Homo sapiens: one gene and its partners. The protein of the gene in region 4 interacts with the protein of the main gene of each other region in a pairwise test. Each region holds a gene or a part of one and is shown on either strand. Other genes may lie near its edges.

Evidence for each region. Proteins that work in one complex are often made in the same cells at the same time.
Region 1: the proteins of SSX2IP (region 4) and ZRSR2 interact in binary tests that used the Homo sapiens proteins (3 or more experiments, as listed by UniProt).
Region 2: the proteins of SSX2IP (region 4) and PRPF3 interact in binary tests that used the Homo sapiens proteins (3 or more experiments, as listed by UniProt).
Region 3: the proteins of SSX2IP (region 4) and ZNF438 interact in binary tests that used the Homo sapiens proteins (3 or more experiments, as listed by UniProt).

The regions. Positions count from the first base shown.
Region 1 is NC_000023.11:15,792,718-15,798,172, forward strand, and holds part of ZRSR2 (U2 small nuclear ribonucleoprotein auxiliary factor 35 kDa subunit-related protein 2), read left to right. Parts: exon of another isoform or gene 1-3,332; coding exon of another isoform or gene 3,333-3,533; intron 3,534-5,455. UniProt on the Homo sapiens protein: Pre-mRNA-binding protein required for splicing of both U2- and U12-type introns. Selectively interacts with the 3'-splice site of U2- and U12-type pre-mRNAs and promotes different steps in U2 and U12 intron splicing.
Region 2 is NC_000001.11:150,327,267-150,332,721, reverse strand, and holds part of PRPF3 (U4/U6 small nuclear ribonucleoprotein Prp3), read right to left. Parts: intron 5,166-5,455; exon of another isoform or gene 5,070-5,165; intron 4,403-5,069; coding exon 4,256-4,402; intron 2,271-4,255; exon of another isoform or gene 2,224-2,270; intron 39-2,223; coding exon 1-38. UniProt on the Homo sapiens protein: Plays a role in pre-mRNA splicing as component of the U4/U6-U5 tri-snRNP complex that is involved in spliceosome assembly, and as component of the precatalytic spliceosome (spliceosome B complex).
Region 3 is NC_000010.11:30,873,677-30,879,131, reverse strand, and holds part of ZNF438 (zinc finger protein 438), read left to right. Parts: intron 1-2,066; coding exon of another isoform or gene 2,067-2,097; coding exon 2,098-2,134; intron 2,135-3,622; exon of another isoform or gene 3,623-3,801; intron 3,802-5,455. UniProt on the Homo sapiens protein: Isoform 1 acts as a transcriptional repressor.
Region 4 is NC_000001.11:84,651,907-84,657,361, reverse strand, and holds part of SSX2IP (afadin- and alpha-actinin-binding protein), read left to right. Parts: intron 1-877; coding exon 878-1,014; intron 1,015-1,356; coding exon 1,357-1,530; intron 1,531-1,773; coding exon of another isoform or gene 1,774-1,897; intron 1,898-5,364; coding exon 5,365-5,455. UniProt on the Homo sapiens protein: Belongs to an adhesion system, which plays a role in the organization of homotypic, interneuronal and heterotypic cell-cell adherens junctions (AJs).

The DNA.
Region 1 (5,455 bases), on a different chromosome or scaffold from region 4:
ATAAAATTAGGACTTAGTTATAAAATTATGTAGTAGTTATAAATCCAGATGGGAGCACTGAAATCACACAGTAGTACTGGCTTATAATGATTGTCATCCGCATTATCCAGAATATGCTCATGAAATTATCCTAGACAATTCTTAAAATCCAGAGACCATGGCCTCAAGTAACTAGGATTCTTGGACCTTGAGAAACATAGCCATAGAGGTTTTATTTACCATTGGTGTTCCTGAGTAATTATTTTAGTGTCAGTACTGGGATATTTAGAATGGAAGGAGCAGTGTGTTTAACTGCAACCTGTGTTAGCATTTCTGTCTTATTAGTTGAAAACTCATCCACTAGAGGCAGAACAAAGCATCAGGGATAAAAGGAAAAGTAGAATAGGTTGGAGTTATTGAGGCCCTTATTGTACTTCGTCTCTCCCCCCTTGAAATTTTCAGCTACTTTACTTTGTTCATTTAATCTGTTTTATTCTAAATATTATATATTCTAAATTTGTTTTAACTTCTTTCTCTTTTTCTTTTCCTGCACTAAATCCTATAACAGCTGGTATTTGTATTGTTTTGATTTTTTTTTTCCTTTTTACTTAGCAAAATGTGTTCAGAATGAGCCTCTGTGGAGAGTCAGGCGAGTCATGTCCCATGGTAGTTTAGCCCATTTTAATGGACTAAATCCAGGTCACTGGTCTGTCAAGATTATGTAACTAATGGCATATCCAAGACTAAGCACCTGTCTCTGCACTTCTGCTCCTACTTTTGCCCACTCCAACTCACAATTCTTTGCCTAGTGGTACTTCATGAATACTGTAGACTATGGAACACTCCTGGTTTTTTTTTTTGAGACAGAGTCTCACTCTCTCGCCCAGGCTGGAGTGCAATGGCACGATCTAGGCTCACTGTAACCTCTGCCTCCCAGGTTCAAGTGATTCTTCTGCCTCAGCCTCCTGAGTAGCTGGGATTACAGGTACCCACTATCATGCCCGGCTAATTCTTGTACTTTTGTAGAGATGGGGTTTCACCATGTTGGCCAGGCTGGTCTCAAACTCCTGATCTCAGGTGATCTGCCCACCTTGGCCTCCCAAAGTGCTGGGATTACAGGCGTGAGCCACTGCGCCCGGCCAGGAACACTGCTGTTTATTGTAGCACACGTTAGATGGGTAAACATTACCCAGAAGGCTAGAATGTTGAGTGTAACTATGAGAGTGCCTTGGCAAATGATTGGAGTGCCTTGGCAAATGATTTCTGGAATAGTGAGCTCTTAATTACAGATAGCTTCTTTGGCATCCATTCTACTTCAGATAACTGGAAACAAGCTACCTCGTCAGAAATTAAGATATTAAAAGCAAGTTGCAAAACTATAGCATGATTCTGTGTGTACAGTTACATGTACAGGTTGAGTATCCCTTATCTGAAATGCTTGCGTTGTATTTACCAGTTCAGCATCCCAAATCCAAAGATCCAAAATTCGAAATGCTCCAATGAGCATTTCCTTTGAGCATTGTTGTCACTCAAAATATTTCTCATTTTTGGATTTGGGGTGCTCAACCTGTATAATACCATTGGATATACATTTGATCCTTGAACAATGTGGGAGTTAGGGGACTCTGACCGCCCCCCGCCCCTCCCCACAGTGGAAAATTTGCATATAACTTTTCACTCCCCCAAAACTTACTATTAAGTGCCTGCTGTTGACTCTAAGCCTTACCAATAACATAAACAGTTGATTAACACATACTTTGTATGTTATATGTATTATATACCATATTCTTATAATAAAGTAAGCTAGAGAAAAGAATGTTACTAAGAAAATCCCGAGGAGGAGAAAATATATTTGCCCTTCATTAAATGGAAGTGGTTCATCATAAAGGTCTTCATTCTCCTTGTCTTAATGTTGAGTAGGCCGAGGAGGAAGAGGATGATTTGGTCTTGCTCTCTTGGGTGGCAGAGGTGGAAGAGGTGGAGGAGGTAGAAGGGAAGGCAAGAGGGTAGACGGCACTTGGTGTAACTTTGCAGAAATACATTATAATTTCTGTCTGACATTTTTGCTTTTTCATTTCTCTAAAAATGTTTCTATACAGTACCAATTCTTCCACCACTTGCTTTAGTTTAAATGCATTAGTTTTCAGTATAGAAGGGTCCATAAAAGAAGTCAAAAGCAGTCTTGAATAATTGGCCCTTCTGCCAGATTGTCTAGTGTCAATTTGTTTTCTGGCACTGCTTCACCTCAGTTTTCTTCCTCATCACCTTGCACTGGTTTGGAAGGACTCATCCCCATCAAATTGGCTTTTGTTAACTACTCTGGTGTGTCTGTTAGCTCTTGAATTTCTTCAAGATATCTTGAGACCCTTCACCCCGACCCCCCTGCACTTTTCCCCCCCCCCCATATTTACAATCTCTTTCACGATTTCCTTGATTGGCTCTGTCTTAAGTCCAATGATGCCATGCACAATATCTGGACACATTTTTTTCTCCAGCAGGACTTTGTTTTGGGCTTGATGATTTTCATGGCTTTTTCTATAACAACAATAGCATCTTCAATGGTATAATCTTTACACACTTTCTTGATACTCTCTGTATTAGGGTTCTCTCCCATAGCATTGACAATCCTTTCCGTAGAGTACCACGTGTAATGAGCTTTAGAGGTTCTTACGACCCCCTGGTCTAGAGGCTGAATTAGAAACATTGTGTTTGGGGGCAAGTAGACCACTTTGACACCTTCAGTGTTGAACTCATGGGGTTCTGGGTGGCCAGGGGCATTGTCCAATATTAAAATAATTTTAAAATCCAGTTCCTTATTGGCAAGGTACTTCCTGACTTCAGGGACAAAGCATCAGTGGAACCAATTCAGAAAAAAGGATTTCCATTGTCCAGGCCTTCTAGTTGTACAACCAAAAGACAGGCAGCTGGTGCTGATCTTTTCCCTTCAAGGATTGGGGGTGGGGGTTAGCAGCTTTATAGATAAGGGCAGTTCTGATCATAAACCCCACTACGTTTTCATGAAACAGTAGAGTTAGCCTGTCTCTTTTTGTTTTCAATCCTGCTGCTTGCTTCTCTTCCTACTAAATGTCCTTTGTGGTGTTTTTCTAGAATAGGATACTTTCATCTGCATTAAAAACCTGTTCAGGCCAGGCGCAGTGGCTCACGCCTGGAGTCCTAGCACTTTGGGAGGCCAAGGCGGGTGGATCACGAGGTCGGGACTTCGAGGGCAGCCTGGCCAACATGGTGAAACCCTGTCTCTGCTAAAAATACAAAAAGTAGCTGGGCGTCCTATTCACGCAGATATCCTTTCTCCTCAGTGATTTTCTTTTTTGTTTTTTGTTTTTTTTTTTGAGATGGAGTCTTGCTCTGTCGCCCAGGCTGGAGTGCAGTGGCATGAACTCGGCTCACTGCAACCTCCGCCTCCCGGGTTGAAGCAATTCTCCTGCCTCAGCCTCCAGAGTAGTTGGGATTACAGACACGCACCACCGCGCCCGGCCATCATGACTTTTCTCTGCTTCTTGAGAGCACTTCCAGCATCGCTAGTCGCACTTTGTGTGAGTCTCATGATGTTATTCAAGGTTTACCATTTTGTAGTAAACACAGTGAAAAATACGCCAGAGATCACTTCTTACTGCCATACACAATTTACTGAAGAGATGAACTGCTCATGCAGAGATGAGTAGTGTCACAAGGTGTTTTAAGTGAATACTCATAGTATTTGAGCTCACTGCAATAGCAGCAGGAGGTGGCTATGAAATTATTGCAGTAGTGCAGTGTGTACTACAGTTAATTTTTTTCTTCCTTCTGTACCTCATTGGATGCGTTTTTTTCCTTGTTTTGTACTACAGTTAATTTCATGCAGTTATGATTTAATACTGCATATTTATGTTTGTTTACATTTTTCTCAACTGTGAATGTGCCATATATGGTCTATAAATATAAGTTTTGATAAATTTTAACTTTAAAAAAAGTTGTCAATGATTATGTTGTAGCACAACTTTTATAGTAATATTCAAGGAAAAATGTTTGAGACCGAACTTCTCTGTCTTAGAATGGAATGAAGTCAGAGATCATTTTGTTTCAAATCGTTTTTTTTTTTTTTTTTTTTTTTTTTTGAGACAGAGTCTCGCTCTGTCGCCCAGGCTAGGGTGCAGTGGTGCAATTTCGGCTCACTGCAACCTCTGCTTCCCAGTTTCAAGCAATTCTCCTGCCTCAGCTTCCTGAGTAGCTGGGATTACAGGCGTGCACCACCACACCTGGCTAATTTTTTTATTTTTAGTAGAGATGGGGTTTCGCCATGTTGGCCAGGCTGGTCTCGATCTCCTGACCTCAAGTAATCCGTCCACCTCGGCCTCCGAAAGTGCTAGGATTACAGGCATGAGCCACCGCTCCCTGGCCTGTTTCAAATGCTTTAAGCAAGGAAACAATAAAACACTTAACTTATATTGTAACAGTATCTGTATATGTGCTGCTCAAGCCAGCACAATATTGCTTAACAGTATCTGCATTAACTTTTTTTTTTTTTTTTTTTGAGACGGTGTTTTGCTCTTGTTTCCCAGGCTGGAGTGCAGTGGCGCGATCTTGACTCACTGCAACCTCCACCTCCCGGGTTCAAGCAATTCTCCTCCCTCAGCCTCCCGAGTAGCTGGGATTACGGGGGGCTGCCACCACGCCCGGCTAATTTTTGTATTTTTAGTAGAGATGGGGTTCACCATGTTGGCCAGGCTGGTCTCGAACTCCTGACCTCAGGTGATCCGCCCGCCTTGGCCTCCCAAAGTGCTGGGATTCCAGGCATGAGCCACCACGCCCAGCTCTGCATTAACGTTTTATAATAGATTTATATTTATGGTAGCAAATGATAAAATAGACTAGTATGTACATATATTTTATGCATTCATGACATACCTTTTTCTTAATTTTTTTCAGTGTTTCTAGGCCATGCCACTTACCTATTTTTTTTTTCAAATTGTTGCAAATATCCCCTAAATGTTCCAGTGTGTTTACTGAAAAAAAATCTGTATTTAAATAGACCAAGGTGGTTCAAACCTGTGTTGTTCAAGGGTCAGCTGTATTGTATGTATATGTATTGCATATGTCCGATTGTACACGTGGGGAAAATGCTGTACCCAGAACTGTTAGCAATCACTTCTGTGGAGTATATGAGCTTGGTTTCGAGGTGATGGGGAGTTGAGTGAGTCAGTCAACAGGTGTTTGTGAGTGTCAGCTGTGTCTATGCCCTGTCTAATCTATGGCATACCTCTGCAAGTAGTCAGGCCATATCCTCTGTGCCAGGTTCTCTGGCGCTTTAAGTACATTAGATCATTTAATTATCTGAACAATTAGATACTATTTTATATGATTGAGAACTTATTCTACATTTGTTGCCCATTTTAATTCCAGCTGCTGAAATAATAAAGTTTACTTACTTAAGAAAAGTAAATTATTGTAATTATCTAAGACTGGATGAGCCTTCAGT
Region 2 (5,455 bases), about 66 Mb from region 4:
TCGATTTGTCGTGTTGCTGCCTCCATCATCTGTTTGATCTGCTCTCCAGGAAAAAAATTGAAAAACTGTTAATTTCTCCTTCTTACTTCTCCCATTCAGGTTTTTAAACCCACAAGGCTCTCAGGTCTAGACACTTAAAATGTTTTGAATGACTATACCACATTCTGCCTGCACCACAGTGCAAAAAATTTAGTCAAGATAAGTGAGCACTGGAATTTTTCAACCCATGTTCCTAAAGCAAGATTAGCATATTAGGTAGTAATATAGTGTGATGATTGAGACTCTGGAGTCAGAGAAACCTGAGTTTGAATCTTAACTCTGCCACTTAATGCCTTTGTTATCTTGGATAAGGAACTTAGTCTCTAAACCTCCTAAGTGTCTAGAAGGGGGAAGAAAACAGTACCTACCTTACAGGTCTAGTGTTAACCACTTAAATAATGCATGCAAACCTAACAGAACCTACACAAAATATTATACTTAATTTTCTTTTTTTTTTTTGAGATGGAGTCTCGCTCTGTCACTCAGGCTGGAGTGCAGTGGTGCGATCTTGGCTCACTGCAAGCTCTGCCTCCCGGGTTCATGCCATTCTCCTGCCTCAGCATCCCGAGTAGCTGGGACTATAGGCGCCCACCACCACGCCCGGCTAATTTTTTGTATTTTTAGTAGAGATGGGGTTTCACCCTGTTAGCCAGGATGGTCTCGATCTCCTGACCTCGTGATCCGCCCACCTCGGCCTCTCAAAGTGCTGGGATTACAGGTGTGAGCCACCGCACCCAGCCTATACTTAATTTTTTTTAAAAAATCATGATATTAGTACTTGAACTACTAGTTTGGGAAACAAGAGACGATGGTGCAAAGACCTGCTCCCTAGTCTCTATAAACCCCTTCTGTCCTAAAGAAGTTCAGAATGATAAGCTTTGAGGGTATGGCCAAACAACTCCTCTTACATTTTGCAAAACAGACCTGTTCTTAAACTGCTTCAAGATATTTTTAAACATTTGTCTTTAACATTTTTTCTTGAATAGGTGATATATTCAAAATTCAAAAATTACGGAAGGGTCAGGCATGGTGGCTCACGCCTGTAATCCCAGCACTTTGAGAGGCTGAGGTGGGCGAATCACTTGAGGTCAGGAGCTGAAGACCAGCCTGGCTAACATGGTGAAACACCGTCTCTAGTAAAAATACAAAAATTAGCCGGGTGTGGTGGTGGGCGCCTGTAATGCCAGCTACTCAGGAGGCTGAGGCAGGAGAAGCGCTTGAATCCAGAAGGTGGAGGTTACAGTGAGCCAAGATCATGCCACTGCACTCCAGCCTGGACAACAGGGGGAGACTCCATCTCTAAATAAGTAAAGAAAGAAAGAAAATAAAAAAATTAAAAATTACAGGGCTGGGCGTGGTGGCTCACGCCTGTAATCCCAATACTTTGGGAGGCTGAGGCAGGTGGATCACGAGGTCAGGAGATCGAGACCATCCTGGCTAACAGGGTGAAACCCCATCTCTACTAAAAATACAAAAATTAGCTGGACATGGTGATGCACGTTCTGTAATCTCAGCTACTCAGGAGGCTGAGGCAGGAGAACTGCTGGAACCCAGGAGGCGGACGTTGCAGTGAGCTGAGATCACGGCATTGCACTCCAGCCTAGGCAACAGTGCAAGAGCGAGACTCCGTCTCAAAAAATAAAATAAAATAAAATGAAAAATTACAGGCTGGGCCTGGCAGCTCACGTCTGTAATCCCAGCACTTTGGGAGGCCGAGCCGGGCGGATCACGAGGTCAGGAGTTCGAGACCAGCCTGACCAACATGGTGAAACCCCGTCTCTACTAAACATACAAAAAAATTAGCTAGGCGTGGTGGCGCGTGCCTGTAATCCCAGCTACTCAAGGGACTGAGGCAGAAGAATAGCTTGAACCCGGGAGGCGGAGGTTGCAGTGAGCCGAGATAGCGCCATTACACTCCACTCTGGGCGACAGAGTGAGACTCCGTCTCAAAAAAAAAAAAGAAAGAAACATAACAAAAGGATATGTTGTGAATACGTCCATCCCCATTCTCCATAAAAAACATCATTGGGCCTGGCACGGTGGCTCATGCCTGTAATCCCAGCACTTTGGGAGGCCGAGGCGGGTGGATCACGAGGTCAGGAGATCAAGACCATCCTGGCTAACATGGTGAAACCCCATCTCTACTAAAAATACAAAAAATTAGTCGGGCATGGTGGTACATACCTGTAGTCCCAGCTACTCAGGAGGCTGAGGCAGGAGAATGGCGTGAACCCGGGAGGCAGAGGTTGCAGTGAGCCGAGAACGCGCCACCGTACTCCAGCCTAAGTGACAGAGCAAGACTCCATCCCCCACCCCCCAAAAAAGAAAATAATTGGCTGGGCGTGGTAGCTCACGCCTGTAAGTCCAGCACTTTGGGAGGCTGAGGCAGGAGGATCATTTCAGCCCAGGAGTTCAAGACCAGCCTGGGCAACATGGTGGAACTCAATCTTTAAAAAAAATACAAAAATCAGCCAGGCATGGTGACCTGTAGTCCCAGCTACTTGGGAAGCCAAGGTGGGAGGATCACTCAAGCCCGGGAGGCAGAGGTTGCAGTAAGCCAAGATCTCGCCACTGAACTCCAGCCTGGACAAAAAAGTGAGACCTTGCCTGAAAAACAAAAACAGGCTAGGTACGGTGGCTCACGCCTATAATCCCAGCAATTTGGGAGGCCAAGGTAGGCAGATCACTTGAGGTCAGGAGTTCCAGACCAGCCTGGTCAACATGGTGAAACCCTGTCTCTACTAAAAATACAAAAATTAGCCGTGCGTGGTGGCACATGCCTATAATCCCAGCTACTTAGGAGGCTGAGGCAGGAGAATCACTTGAACCTGGGAGGCAGAGGCTGCAGTGAACCGAGATCGCACCACTGCGCTCCAGCCTGAGTGACAGAGAGAACATCTCACACACACACACAAAAAAAATCCATTTCTTTCCTTCTGTAAATATCACATATATGCAAATCCACCCACCCATATTTCTGTATATGTTCTATTACCCCCCTCAAATATTAAATGGTAAAAGAAACACTTATGTGGTATTATTTAACAATGCCAATTGAAAAAACACAAATACTTCCTGTTAAAAAAAAATAAAGTCAACTTAAAATTATTTATCAGTGGATTATATCTTCTTTGCATTATGTTTGGAGAGTCTCCTCTGTCATTAAGATGAGTTCTGATCATTTCATTTAATTTTCTCAATGACTCAACGACATAGGTAATTAGGCAAATAATGTACATAACACACTTTGCTTGCCACAGTAAATGGCAATTTCAATACCCTTACCTAGAATACTCCTGGTCAAATCAAAGAACGCTAAAACATAAAGCAGGAAATAAAATTTTCCCAAATGCTGGCCTGGCATGGTGGCTCACACCTGTAATCCCAGCCATTTGGGCGGCTGAGGTGGCAGATCACTTGAGGCCAGGAGTTCCAGAGCAGCCTGGCCAACATGACAAAATACCATCTGTACTAAAAATACAAAAATTAGCCAGGCGTAGTGGTGTTCGCATGTAGTCCCAGCTACTCCGGAGGCTTAGGCAGGAGAATCGCTTGAACCTGGGAGGTGGAGGTTGCCGTGAGCTGAGATCACGCCACTACACTCCAGCATGGGCAACAGAGTGAAACTCTATCTCAAAAAAAAAAGTTTACCCCAAATGCTAAACACTAATTCAAATCAAGATCACAATAAGGCGAGGCACGCTGGCTCACGCCTATAATCCCAGCACTCTGGGAGGCGAAGGTGGGCAGATGACCTGAGGTCAGAAGTTGAAGACCAGCCTGCCCAACATGGTGAAACCCTGTCTCTACTAAAAGAAATACAAAAAATTAGCCGGGCGCAGTGGCTCGCTCCTGTAATTCTAGCACTCTGAGAGGCCAAGGTGAGTGCATCACCTGACATCAGGAGTTCAAGACCAGCCTGGCCAACATGGTGAAACCCCATCTCTACTAAAAATACAAAAATTAGCCAGGCTTGGTGGTGGGTGCCTCTAATCCCAGCTACTCAGTAGGCTGAGACAGGAGATTTGCTTGAACCCGGGAGGCGGAGGTTGCAGTGAGCTGAGATCGCGCCACTGTATTCCAGCCTGGGTGACAAGAGCAAAACTCCACCTCAAAAAAAAAAAAAAAAAAAAAATTCCACAATAAATACAGACCCATGCACCTTTTGCTTCTTCAACTCACAAAACCACTTTGCTTCCAGTCCCTAATCACTAACCTGGAGCTTAGTCAGCATGCCAGGGCTCTCTGATGGAGGCCCAGGGATCACCTCTGGCTCTTCTTCCACCTCCTCAAAACGGGGTATTCGTCGCTTCTTTACTCCTGATGATTCTTTAGAGATCTCAGAGTCATCACCAAACACCTCCTAAGGGAACCCAAGATGAAAGAAAAGCTGTATCCCTCCCCGTGGGGAGAAGGGAAGAATTATCCTAGCCCCTACCAGCATTTTCTGGCTATTCCCAGGGGAATATGACACAACCTTGCAAATAGCCACCTGCCAGAAGCAGGGTCTACTAGACTCTCCATCTCACCCAACTTCAACATTCTCCTAATCCAGTCAAACAAATTTCATTCCCATGTTCTTATAAATGTTCCCATCTCAAGGTCTTTGCAAATGCTACTGCTCACATTTATAATGATTTCTCTCAACTTTTCCACAACCCCTGTTCCAAATCCTGCCTAAAACTCACCTCCTCCAAGAAGTTTTCCTCATTATAACCTATCCCACTCTGATTAAACTTTTGTTTCACATTCTCTTAGCGTGTAAGAGCTTGGTTCATATTAGGTTAAATTACATTGTTGATATTCTGTTTGCCAAGTGTTAAGTATTTCAATGTTAGTATAGTTTTCCCAACTAAGTCTAAGCTCTTCCAGGACAGGGGCTTTCTCTTTCTTCTTCAGTAATCCCCATTAACACTTTGTTTTCATCAAACAATGGAAACTCAAATATGATGACTAATTTGCAAGGTGAATTTAACAGGACCGAGAGTGGCCAACTGGAAGGGACAATGGGAAAAAGCAAATGTACACACCGGTGGTAGGCTTTGGGTGACATCCCCTCTTCACTAGGAGGGCTCGTGTTTTGCAAGGACATATCCTCGGCCAGGGGCGAGCGCTTCCTGGAACTCCTACAGTTCAAGAAAAAGGACTCTCCCATAATATATTGTGTGGGGTGGGGACCTGAATGGACCAAAAATGGGACCCGTATCCCAAGGCTATCTAGACACCTCCTTCAAGAAGCCATTTTTATTAATCCCACCCAATGTAGTCACTTCATTCACAGCATGCCCTCAGCACTCATACAGAAGTATGCCCTACTGGCCAGGCGCAGTGGCTCATGCCTGTAATTCCAGCACTTTGGGAGGCCGAGGCGAGCAGATCTTGAGGTCAGGAGTTCGAGACCAACCTGATCAACATG
Region 3 (5,455 bases), on a different chromosome or scaffold from region 4:
TCCTCACTTGCCTGTGCTGATCATTACAAAGGTAAATAACCCAGCGAGGACCCTCTCTGTTGTGCTGTGTCTGTGTGTAGCTCTCTTTTCCAGTATTCTGGAAATCTCTGCAAGGATCTGTCCTCACATAGAGCTCATCGCAGTTGTTTCAATAGGGCTCATTGCAATTGTTTCCTGGCTCTCGGGGATCAGTTTTTCTTGACCTGATGATGCAGGATTTTTCTCGACCCCTTTGTCAGATTTGCAATGGGGGTGCCCTGTTTACTCAGCCTGCCACACTCAACCCCTTGCAGGAGGGAGCACGTGAGCAAGCGAGTGGGTTCAGGCTGGCTGCTTTGGGTGCCGGCAGGAGCAAGCTCCATGCACACCCTGTGGCGGTGCCCAGGTGGGAGTGCCTGTGATCCCCAGAATCCCAGAGGGCATGCTACAATGCCCTCTTAGCTTAGCTTTACCGTTTATGGACAGCAGTGTTATCAGCTCAGTGGGCCCCTTGTCTTGTCATGTGGGGTGTCTACACTCCACCAGCAAGGGCAAAGGGCTAGTGTGACAGCCTTTTTTGGGTACCTGCATCCAGTGGGTCCCAAGCCCTTGTGTGGTGTCCAAGAAGAACGAGGTCATGCTGACACTTGAAGGATGGTGGAGGCAGATAATTTTATTTAGCGATGGATGTCTCTCAGTGGAGAGAGGAGCTGGAAAGGGGGATGGGATGGTCAGGTAATCTTCCCTGAAGTCAGAGCGTCCCTCTGAAGTTAAGCTATCTTTCCTCTGAAGTCCAGCTGTCCCTCTGAAGTCAAGTTGCTTCTCTCCAGTCAAGCTGCTTCTCTCCTCTACTGACTGAGTCCAGGGTCTTTAGAGGCACAGAATGGGGGTGCAGGGCAAGCCATGGGTAGTTTTGGAAAAGGCAACATTCGATTGGTAAAAAGACATTATTCAGAAAGAACCAATCAGGAGAGAACAGGCAAACAGGGATAGAAGTTCTCACCTTGGGCAGCAGGTTTCAGGCTACTTTGACTTGAAGGTGCTGTTTCACTGGGGACCCGCCCCTGTCTGCCTAGAATTTCTCTGCCTCCTGCTTCCATCGCTGATGTTCAGTGTTTTGAAGACATTGTTTCATATGTTCTGTCTGTGTTTTGGTTGTTTCAGGCAGAAGCATGAATCTGGTCTCTGTTACTCCATCTTGGCTAGAAGTAGGAATCATGCCTTTTAATTTTGTCCAATTTTCTTACTTTAAAAATATTTAAAATTTTAAATAGAAAAATTCATCAGTCTTTACCTTAATGGGCTCTGTACTTGGTGTCATGCTTAGGAACATTTTTTTGTTTAAGAACTTATAAAAAAATTTACTTCTATTTTTCAAATATTTGAATTGTCTTATTCAGATATTTTATTAATATGGAACACTACATTATACACAATTTGGAAAATAGCTAAAATATGGGGAATGGGGGAGAACACCTGTAATTCCATCACCAAACACACTGTAAATTTATATATTGACATATTTTCTTCCATGTGTTTTCCTGTGCCTTTATTTTTTGTGTATTTGTAATGCTGGTGTCCATCATTTAGCATGTTCATCCATGTTTATCCAGTGCATCGCATCATTAACATTTTTTATGTTGCTACATAATCTTCACAGTTGCATTTTAATGACTGAGTTATATTTCATCAAATGATTATATTACAATTATATTACCTTTATACTGTTAAGCATGTTAGCTATTTCTTCTTAAAGTATATGAAGCAATTATCAGAGAGTACATTTTCAGAGAATCCTAACTTTGCCTACTTACACATGACCCCATGAGAGCAGAAGTGTGACTAAGGCCCCTGATGTGTCATTGCATCTGTCTCTAAGCCCATTCTAGTACATTCAATAAAATCCTATTTGTAGAAAAATGAGAAGAAAATAAAAACATCAATTCTTAATAGCTCAATCCATTTCTTATTACTCATATAGTTATAAAACAAACTTTAAAAAACAGCTTAGAATTTCTATATTTAGTATGCATTAACATGCTCTCTCAATTACTTTCTAATACTTATTTGTGCTTGCTTATTTTTAGGAAAGATACTATTCAAGTCCAGTACATCATAATGCAGAATTCTGTATCAGTACCACCAAAAGATGAAGGTAAGTTAAACTGCTGAGGAAAATGGTGATGAGTCTGTTATAGTTTTAATTTGATACATTGAATGTCATTGACCTCTAATCATAAGGTAACTTATTTCCTAGAATTAAAAATAAAAATTATAATTATATATGAAAACTCATTTCTTTTGGTAAATAATTTGAGTGTATATGGATTCCTGAGTTTTAAGGACCTGTCTCCTTTATAGGCTATAGCGCCTTGAGAGCCCAGCCATCTCATTCCACCCAAAACTCACAGAGCCCTGCTTATTCACTGGCAGTTAACTGGCACTAACAGATATCAGTAAAATTAAAAAGTGTTGGCTTTATTGAAGCAAAATAACACAAGTATTTTAGTGAGTAGAAGAATATATGCATATATATTCACACACACATCTGTAGACATACACTTAGAGGATATAGAATTTGTGTATACATTTCTTTGCCTGTTTCCCCTGATATCCATTTAAAAAGAAATAGAAAAACTATTTTACTTTTTGCAATGTATAAAAAATAAAATAATGATTTTTTAACAGGCACTTCTGGACCTTCCAGAAGAACCTGTACCTCCAGATGGAGGTAGAGTCCTTTCTTCATCAAGAGTAATTAAATTACCCTCACCATAAAGGGTACACTCTAACCCCGGGGAGAAATACCAGTCTTTCCCTGCCCCATCTAGTCTCTTCCACACAGAAGAGAAGTTCTGACATGTATGAGAAAAAAGACATATCTTTAATGAGGCAAAATTAGGTTGCCTTAGTGGAACATGTAGCTTTTAGTGAAAGGAGGGAATTTGTTATGAAGGACCCTTAAATAGAGCAAACACCCTTTGATCTCTCTACCAGTGAGAAAGGTAGTATCATAACTCTTGAGCACATGGAATCTGGATTTGAAACTCAGTCCTACCACTTAACTGTAAAACTTTAGGTGTATCACTTGACCTCAGCTTCCACATCTGTAAATCTATAAAATGAAGATAATAAGTTCCACTCTATAGGATATGTGGAGACTAAAGGAAATAGCATATGTAAATCACCTAGCATATTGTTGTTTGCATAGTAGGCACTTATATGATGATAAAACTACCATTCTCAATGGCTATTATTAATATCTGGGACATCCTCATCTTTGAGACTGGTCAGTGAGATGGCCATGAGGCCGCCTCTTGCCTGGGATGCCTAATGGCCTTGGAAGGCCAAACATGCTCCAAGGGGACCCATGGGGAGTAAGCAGGAATTAGACCGCTTGGTTTGATTCTTACCCAGGAGTTGATCCGAAGAGAGAGTGAGAGTCCTTGAGACTCACACAAAATCCAGCCGGGAACACTAGGGCAAGAAAGGAGATGGGCAAACCCCAACTAGAAATAAAGAGCATGTGTTTTTCTTGAGTGTTCTCTGGTATATATCCTCTGGAAGATTTGTGCAGCACTTGGTAGCTGATGAAGGGTTTGAAATTCAGTGTCCTAGCTGGTATTACCTTTTTTTATCCAAGCAAGCAAGGAGAAGCTTAGGAGAAAAAATAATGGAACAAGTATCAGGAAAGCTGGACTCCATTCCATACCTGCCTCCAACCAGCTGTGGAACCCCAGGCAAAGTTATTTTGCCCCTGAGCCTCAGTTTTCTCATTGAAAAATCGAGAATGACTAGGTGTTCCTTTCAGGCTCTAAAAAGGTGAGTCTATGTGAGTAACTAAGCAACAAGCTGCTTGGCTCTGGCTGATACAGAGGGAGAAAGCACTCACACCTCTTGGCTGCTTTGCTTCTCATCACAGTTTGTTTTGTTCTGATGCCTACCTCTCTGGGCTATCACATAAGCTTGGATACTTCCATTGACCGGAAAGTAAGACCCCTTGGCCCTACCCAGAGCTCAAGTAAACCTCCTTACCCAGTCTTTTCTGGGACTAAAGATGCTTAAGCCCAATCCTGGAATTTGACAGAGGATATATAATAGCTTAAAAAAACCTCAATCATGTGCCTCCATTGTGATAATCATTCTACCTACAACTTTACATCCTTTATTTAATCTTCACAATAAGTTAGACGTAAACCTTATTTTACAACTTCAAGATTAGGTACTTTTTGCCAAGACCACCAACCAGTAAGTGACTGATCCAAGATTTGAACTCAGATCTATCATAAAATTTATAAAGAATATTTATATAAATTATAGAGAATATATATTTATAAAGAATATTTAATTTATAAAGATATTTCTATAAGAATTTACAATTTATAAAGAATATTTCTAATAATTTTTGATCATCTCCTTTTTCTCTCATCAAACATACTATGCTTAATTACACATATGAATGCTTAAAGCCATTTTAAACCAAAGTGAGCAGAAATTATAACTTAAATTATGGAAAATTACATCAATAAGGAAAAATAATATATGTGAATACATGTAAGTCCTATGAATTGCCCAGTTATTCATTAATTTACTCATTCATTCATTCAAATGCTTTCTGTATGTCTTAGATTAATATTAATATTTTTTAACAAAAGCATCAGATGTATTAATTATGATTCTGTTTATGATCAAATATAATTTATGGCTAGGTACAGCAGCTCCCACCTGTAATCCCAGCACTTTGGGAGGCTGAGGTGGGAGGATAACTTGAGGCCAGGAGTTAGAGACCAGCCTGGGCAACATAGCAAGACTCCATCTCTACAAAAAAATTTCAAAATTAGCTAGGCGTGATGGCTCATGCCTATAGTCCCAGCTACTTGGAAGGCTGAGCTAGGAGGATTGCTTGAGCATAGGAGTTTGAGGCTGCAGTGAGCTATGATCATGCCATGGCATTCCAGCCTGGACAACAGAACAAGACCTTGTCTCTAAATATATATATATATATATATATATATATATATATATATATATATATATACACACACACACCCCCACACACCCACACGTAATATATTACATATATATTTGTTTAATTGCATGTACATAATTTGTGTGACATGAGAAGTTTGCTGGGCACATGCTATTTATTAATTAAATGCAGATTGATTTATTTAACAAACCATTGATGGCTAGCTATAAATTATGATACCTTTGAATTTCCAACTTATAAACACATACACACGTATTATATGCATTTCTGTATAAAATTCAGATAAGACATCACCAACAGAGTTGTGAGGCTTAAATTAAGGAAAATATGCTGTACTAACATACTGTCCCCAAACAAAGTTCATATGGTAGAAGCAGGTTTAATGATCACCAAGGTAATTCATACGAGGAACTATCAGATGCTATGAAGAATCCAAAGGTAAATCATACAGAGCCTGAGCTTTTAGGCTCTAAAATCCTGTTGGAA
Region 4 (5,455 bases):
AGTTTGGTGCATATTTTTCTATACTTTCCTCTATGGATTTGAAAGATACTTACTTTTTTTTAAATTTTAAAAATTGAATATTACCTATATTTTTCTTTAGTGTGCTTTTTTCACTTAACTATTATCCTTATACATAGCTCTACATTGATGAATATATTCTTAATATTTTCTGCTTGGTAAAGTTTGAATGCTTTTAAACTAGGAAAATGAAGATTTCTGCTCAGTAAATGAAGCCTATTTAAAGAAAAATTTAAATTGTCAAAATATGAACTCAGTGCCATTGTGTTAAGTATTAGTAAAGAGCAATCAGCAAAATTATTATTACAGCACCAAAATGAATCTACATGAGATTTTGTTCATTTGAGTCAATGCTGTTTATTATCAAATAGCAAGTATGTTTGGACTTCGTATTTGTTGAATTTAATATTTGAGAGCAAGATTTGTGACACTTCATTGATCTTTGAAGCAGTGTCAACAAAAACATGATTTTATTTTTCTCTTCTCTGAATATGGCCATTTTGTCTGTTTTTAATTAGGACATAATCATGAATAAATATGGATTACAAATTGTTGGCAATAGAGCTCTGTTTGTAAGCATATCATTTAGTCTTAAAATTGCACAAATGTGTAATTGTCGTCATGAACTCCTGTAGTTGCTTTGCTTAAACATTTTTTATAATGTTAAAATAATATAAATTTAATTTTGTTATAGCTTATGAAATTTTAAAAAGTCAAAGGACGTAACTACTTTTTAGAAAACCTATAAAATTCTAGAAAGATAAAAGTTCTGAGAGCCCTTGTTTTAAAGATATGTGCAAAACACTGTAAACTAAGTGGTGGCTATAAGACCTATGTCAACTTACTGATTTTGTCTTAGTTTCAAAGGTACACCTGGAAGGTTTTAATGATGAAGATGTAATCTCACGACAAGACCATGAACAAGAAACTGAAAAACTCGAGTTAGAAATTCAGCAGTGTAAAGAAATGATTAAAACTCAGCAACAGCTTTTACAGGTGAATATGAATTACCTTTTAAAGCTGTTCTCCATGAAAAGCCAGAATTGTGCTGAACCTTACCAGATTTGTATTCCTTTATTTCATAAGGCCCTGGTATTTGACAGATTTCTAGTCTGTGTTCCCTGCTAACAGATACATTGTGTACCACTCCTTAAATAGTCCATACTTTGCTAGTTGGGGTAGTAGGTTTCGGGAAATGAGAATTCTCATTTGACTTTTTGATTCTTAATAATTTCTATTCCTGCCCTGAAGTTTGACTGGCCTTCCCTTGCTTTCATTTCAACTCGTTGGAGTGTCGCAAGGTCCCTCAGGAACTTACTATGTTTTAAATTTTAATAGCAGCAGCTCGCTACTGCATATGATGATGATACCACTTCACTATTACGAGACTGTTATTTGTTGGAAGAAAAGGAACGTCTCAAAGAAGAATGGTCCCTTTTTAAAGAGCAGAAAAAGAATTTTGAGAGGGAGAGACGAAGCTTTACAGAAGCCGCTATTCGCCTGGGATTGGAGGTATTTTAAACAATTGTAGTGCTTTTGAAAATACTGGGGGTGGGTGGGCCTCAGTAGAATGCTTCTAAGGTCTCCTTTTTTTCTTGCTATTTACTTATTTTCTAAAATATTTACTGGTGATCTCACAAATAATTTGAAATGAGAGGGAGGCTGAGCATATAGAATGGGATCATTTCCCCTTACCAGATTTGAGAATTGAACTTAAGAAAAAAAAACGCTATAAGCATTTATTACTGCTTTCAGATTGGCTTTCTCCTGCTAAGTGTTTTACACAAGAAATCTCTTTTGGGTATCCATCATTCATCCACGGTCAGTAGGTGTGGTGTCAGAAGACAGTGCAACCAAGACTATATTTGCTGTTTAAAAAGGAAGTATAATAAAAAATTAAGTTCTCTTCTCCCCAGTCCATCATTGTTATATATACGCTCTACAGCTTGCTTTTTTTACTTAGCAATGTGTCATCTACATATTCCCCCTTCAAAAATTGTAGCAGTAATGTCTGAATAAGGTTAAAAAAAAAAAATCAACAAAACTCATTAAAAAAAGCTACAAAGTAAGAAAGTATCCTCCTTTCTCATCCTCAGTTTCATTCCTTAGAGGTAACTGCTGTTAAAAAGTATCTGTTGGAAATTCTTCTAGGAAGTACTATTTTAACTTTTAATGTATTTCAAGTTTTCTTGTTTATCAGTTCATTGATTCCCTGCTATGAAAGATAAGGAATTCTGTGTCCTTATTGTACCTCCTACCTACACCCTTCCTCATTCACATCTCATGTCTTCATAATATTGTTCCTCTTGTTCGTCTGCTTGCCTTTTTTTTGCTTTAAGGAAATAATAAAAAGCTTCCATTTCATGTTTGTTCAACTTCAGTCAGTATCAGTTCATCCCTGCAGTGAAAGCTGAGGACTTTCTTGTTGTTACTCTTGTTCTACCTCTCTTGCTGTACTACTTTGCAATTTTTGTGATATTATTTTTCATTGTTATCACATTCATAGTTTGTCCTCTAATACAATCCAGGTATAAGTACTTTGTCTAAACTTGAGACTTAAAAGTTGGAAAACCAGGAAAGAAAATTGATAATACTACAATTATGTAAATGTTATTCTATAACCAAATATGTTTGGACACAGAAAATATTCTGTATTATTAAGACTTTGCCACCCAGAGAGATATATCACTATCTAGTGAATTCTTTTTCTCTGTAGCTTCCTTTGTGATTTCCTGAATCAGATTTCAGCTGCCATGTTGCTCATATCTCATGTTACTGTCTTTCTTGGGTTTCTGTTCAATTCGCTATATTAGTAATTGAGTAATTACTAATTCTTGAGTAATTTTTTTTTTATAAATAGTGCATGAGCTGTAAACATTCTGAATTCTGGAATAGTCAAAAATATATTCATACTTGATTGGTTTGGCTGTGTATAGAATTTAGATTCCAGTTTTTTTTCCTTCAAAACTTTGAATTATTCCATTTCTCCTAGTGTTTAGTTTTACTGATGAGAAGCCTGATTGTAATATACCTGTGTTACTTTGTAGATAACTGTGTTTTGTTTTCTATCTCCCTCTGTGGAAGCTTTGGTATTTTCTTAAAGTTTGGAAATTTTACCAGGATACTTCTAGAGAGTTCCTTTCATCCTAAAGATTCTGTATTTCTTTAATTTAGGGAAATTTTCTTCTTTATTTTTTCCTTCTTTGACTTCTCTGTGTTCTGGAACTTTTGTTAGACACACATTTGGCCTTCTGAATATATATCTACAGGTTGACTTTTGTTCTCAATTCTGGGATATTCTCTTACCTTTATCTTAGAGATCACGAAACTGGCCTTTCAGGGTCAGTTTTATTATTTGCTTTAGCCACTGAGTCTTTGCTTCAGAATTTATCTTTAAATTTTTCTAATGTCCTTAATTTTTGCTTTTCTTTATATAGCATGATGGTATTTTACAGATGTTTATTAATCTGATAATATTTGTTACATTTTTAAAAAAGATTTCTTTCATCTGTTGAATTATCTCTTATCCATGGTCAGTTTTCTATTTATCTTGACCTTTTTTCTATATTAGTTTTCTCAATGTTTGGTGATGCGTGATTCTGTATCAATATTTATGAATGAAAGACTGTGTGTTGCTTGTTTTCAGTAGCTGACGTGGATTTCCTCAGTTCACAGTGTGAACGTCTGTTTCATCAGTAGCTATCTTCAGGGAACAACACTTGACCAGCATTGTCTCCTACCTGTTTCCAAGCCCTTATTCCCCACATTACTCCAAGAGAGTAATTACTCTTGCTACTTTGCATATTGCTCCCAGTTGCCAGGTGCCTTTCCCTGCAAGAGAATTTTTCTCCGTCTGGTCACTGGGACAGTGGGCATAGTGAGGGATGGGAGGGAGGCATGCAAGACCTGAGGGCTGATGGAGAATTTAGTTTAGGATTCATCAGCTATTCAGAAGGGGGAGGTTTGACATAATTTGCCTATGCCCTCTTGTGGTTTAGTGGTGGTGGCTACCAGTACTGGTAGATGGCTAGAGGATGAGAGAAATGCTTGATGAAGTCATAGGTCCTGTTTTTCAAGTGACTAATTTACAATATAGATTATTTTTCTTTTGTTTGTAACTTTATAATGTTTTGTATGTTCAAAAGTTATGCTAATATTCTGTTCCATTTTTTGCATTGTTTATTTGAACTTAAAATTGATATGAAGACAGTGATGGTTGGTTTATTAGGTGAAACAGATGAATTTCTATTTTTTAAACATAATTTTTTCGTAAGTGAAATTTTTCTTAGTTTTTTTGTTTTTGTTTTTTTTTGAGATGGAGTCTCACTCTGTTGCCCAGGCTAGAGTGCAGTGGCGTGATCTTGGCTCACTGCAGGCTCTGCCTCCTGGGTTCATGCCATTCTCCTGCCTCAGCCTCCTGAGTAGCTGGGACTACAGGCACCCGCCACCACACCCGGCTAATTTTTTTTGTTTTGTATTTTTAGTAGAGACGGGGTTTCACCATGTTAGCCAGGATGGTCTCGATCTCCTGACCTCGTGATCCACCCGCCTTGGCCTCCCGAAGTGCTGGGATTACAGGCGTGAGCCACCGTGCCCGGCCGTGTTTTGCTTTTTGAGATGGAGCCTTGCTTTGTTGCCCAGGCAGGAGTGCAGGGGTGCGATCTCAGCTCACTGCAACCCCTGCCTCCTGGGTTCATGTGATTCTCCTGCCTCAGCCTCCTGAGTAGCTGGGACTACAGGCGCACGCCACCATGCCCGGCTAAATTTTGTATTTTTAGTAGAGATGGGGTTTCACCATGTTGGCCAGACTGGTCTCAAACTCCTGACCTTGTGATCCGCCCACCTTGTCCTCCCAAAGTGCTGGGATTACAGGCATGAGCCACTGCGCCCGGCTTTTTTTTTTTTTTTTTTTTTTTTTTTGGAGATACGGTCTTGCCGTGTCACCTAGGCTAGAGTGCAGTGGTGCTATCTCGGCTCACTTCAGCGTCAACTTCCCAGCCTCTAGCCATCCTCCCTCCTCAGCCTCCAAAGTAGCTGAGACTGTAGTCCTGTGCCACCATGCCCAGCTGATGTTTGTATTTCGTGTAGAGACAGGGTTTTGCCGTGTTGCCTAGGCTGGTTTGGAACTCCTCAGTTCAAGTGCTCCACCAACCCTCAGCCTCCCAAAATACTGGGATTACAGACGAGTGCTGAAATTATTTTTAGTTTTTTAGGTTAACTCATTTGACATAAGAAGTACGAATAGATAGCCAGAGAGCAAACAAAGATAGCTAGAGCAATCATGTGAAATGGCAACTGTGTGGATGTTGAAATATTGATCATTATTTCTTTGGCTGTTTATGGTAGAGAAAGGCATTTGAAGAAGAAAGAGCCAGTTGGTTAAAGCAGCAGTTTCTAAATATGACTACCTTTGACCACCAGAACTCAGAAAATGTGA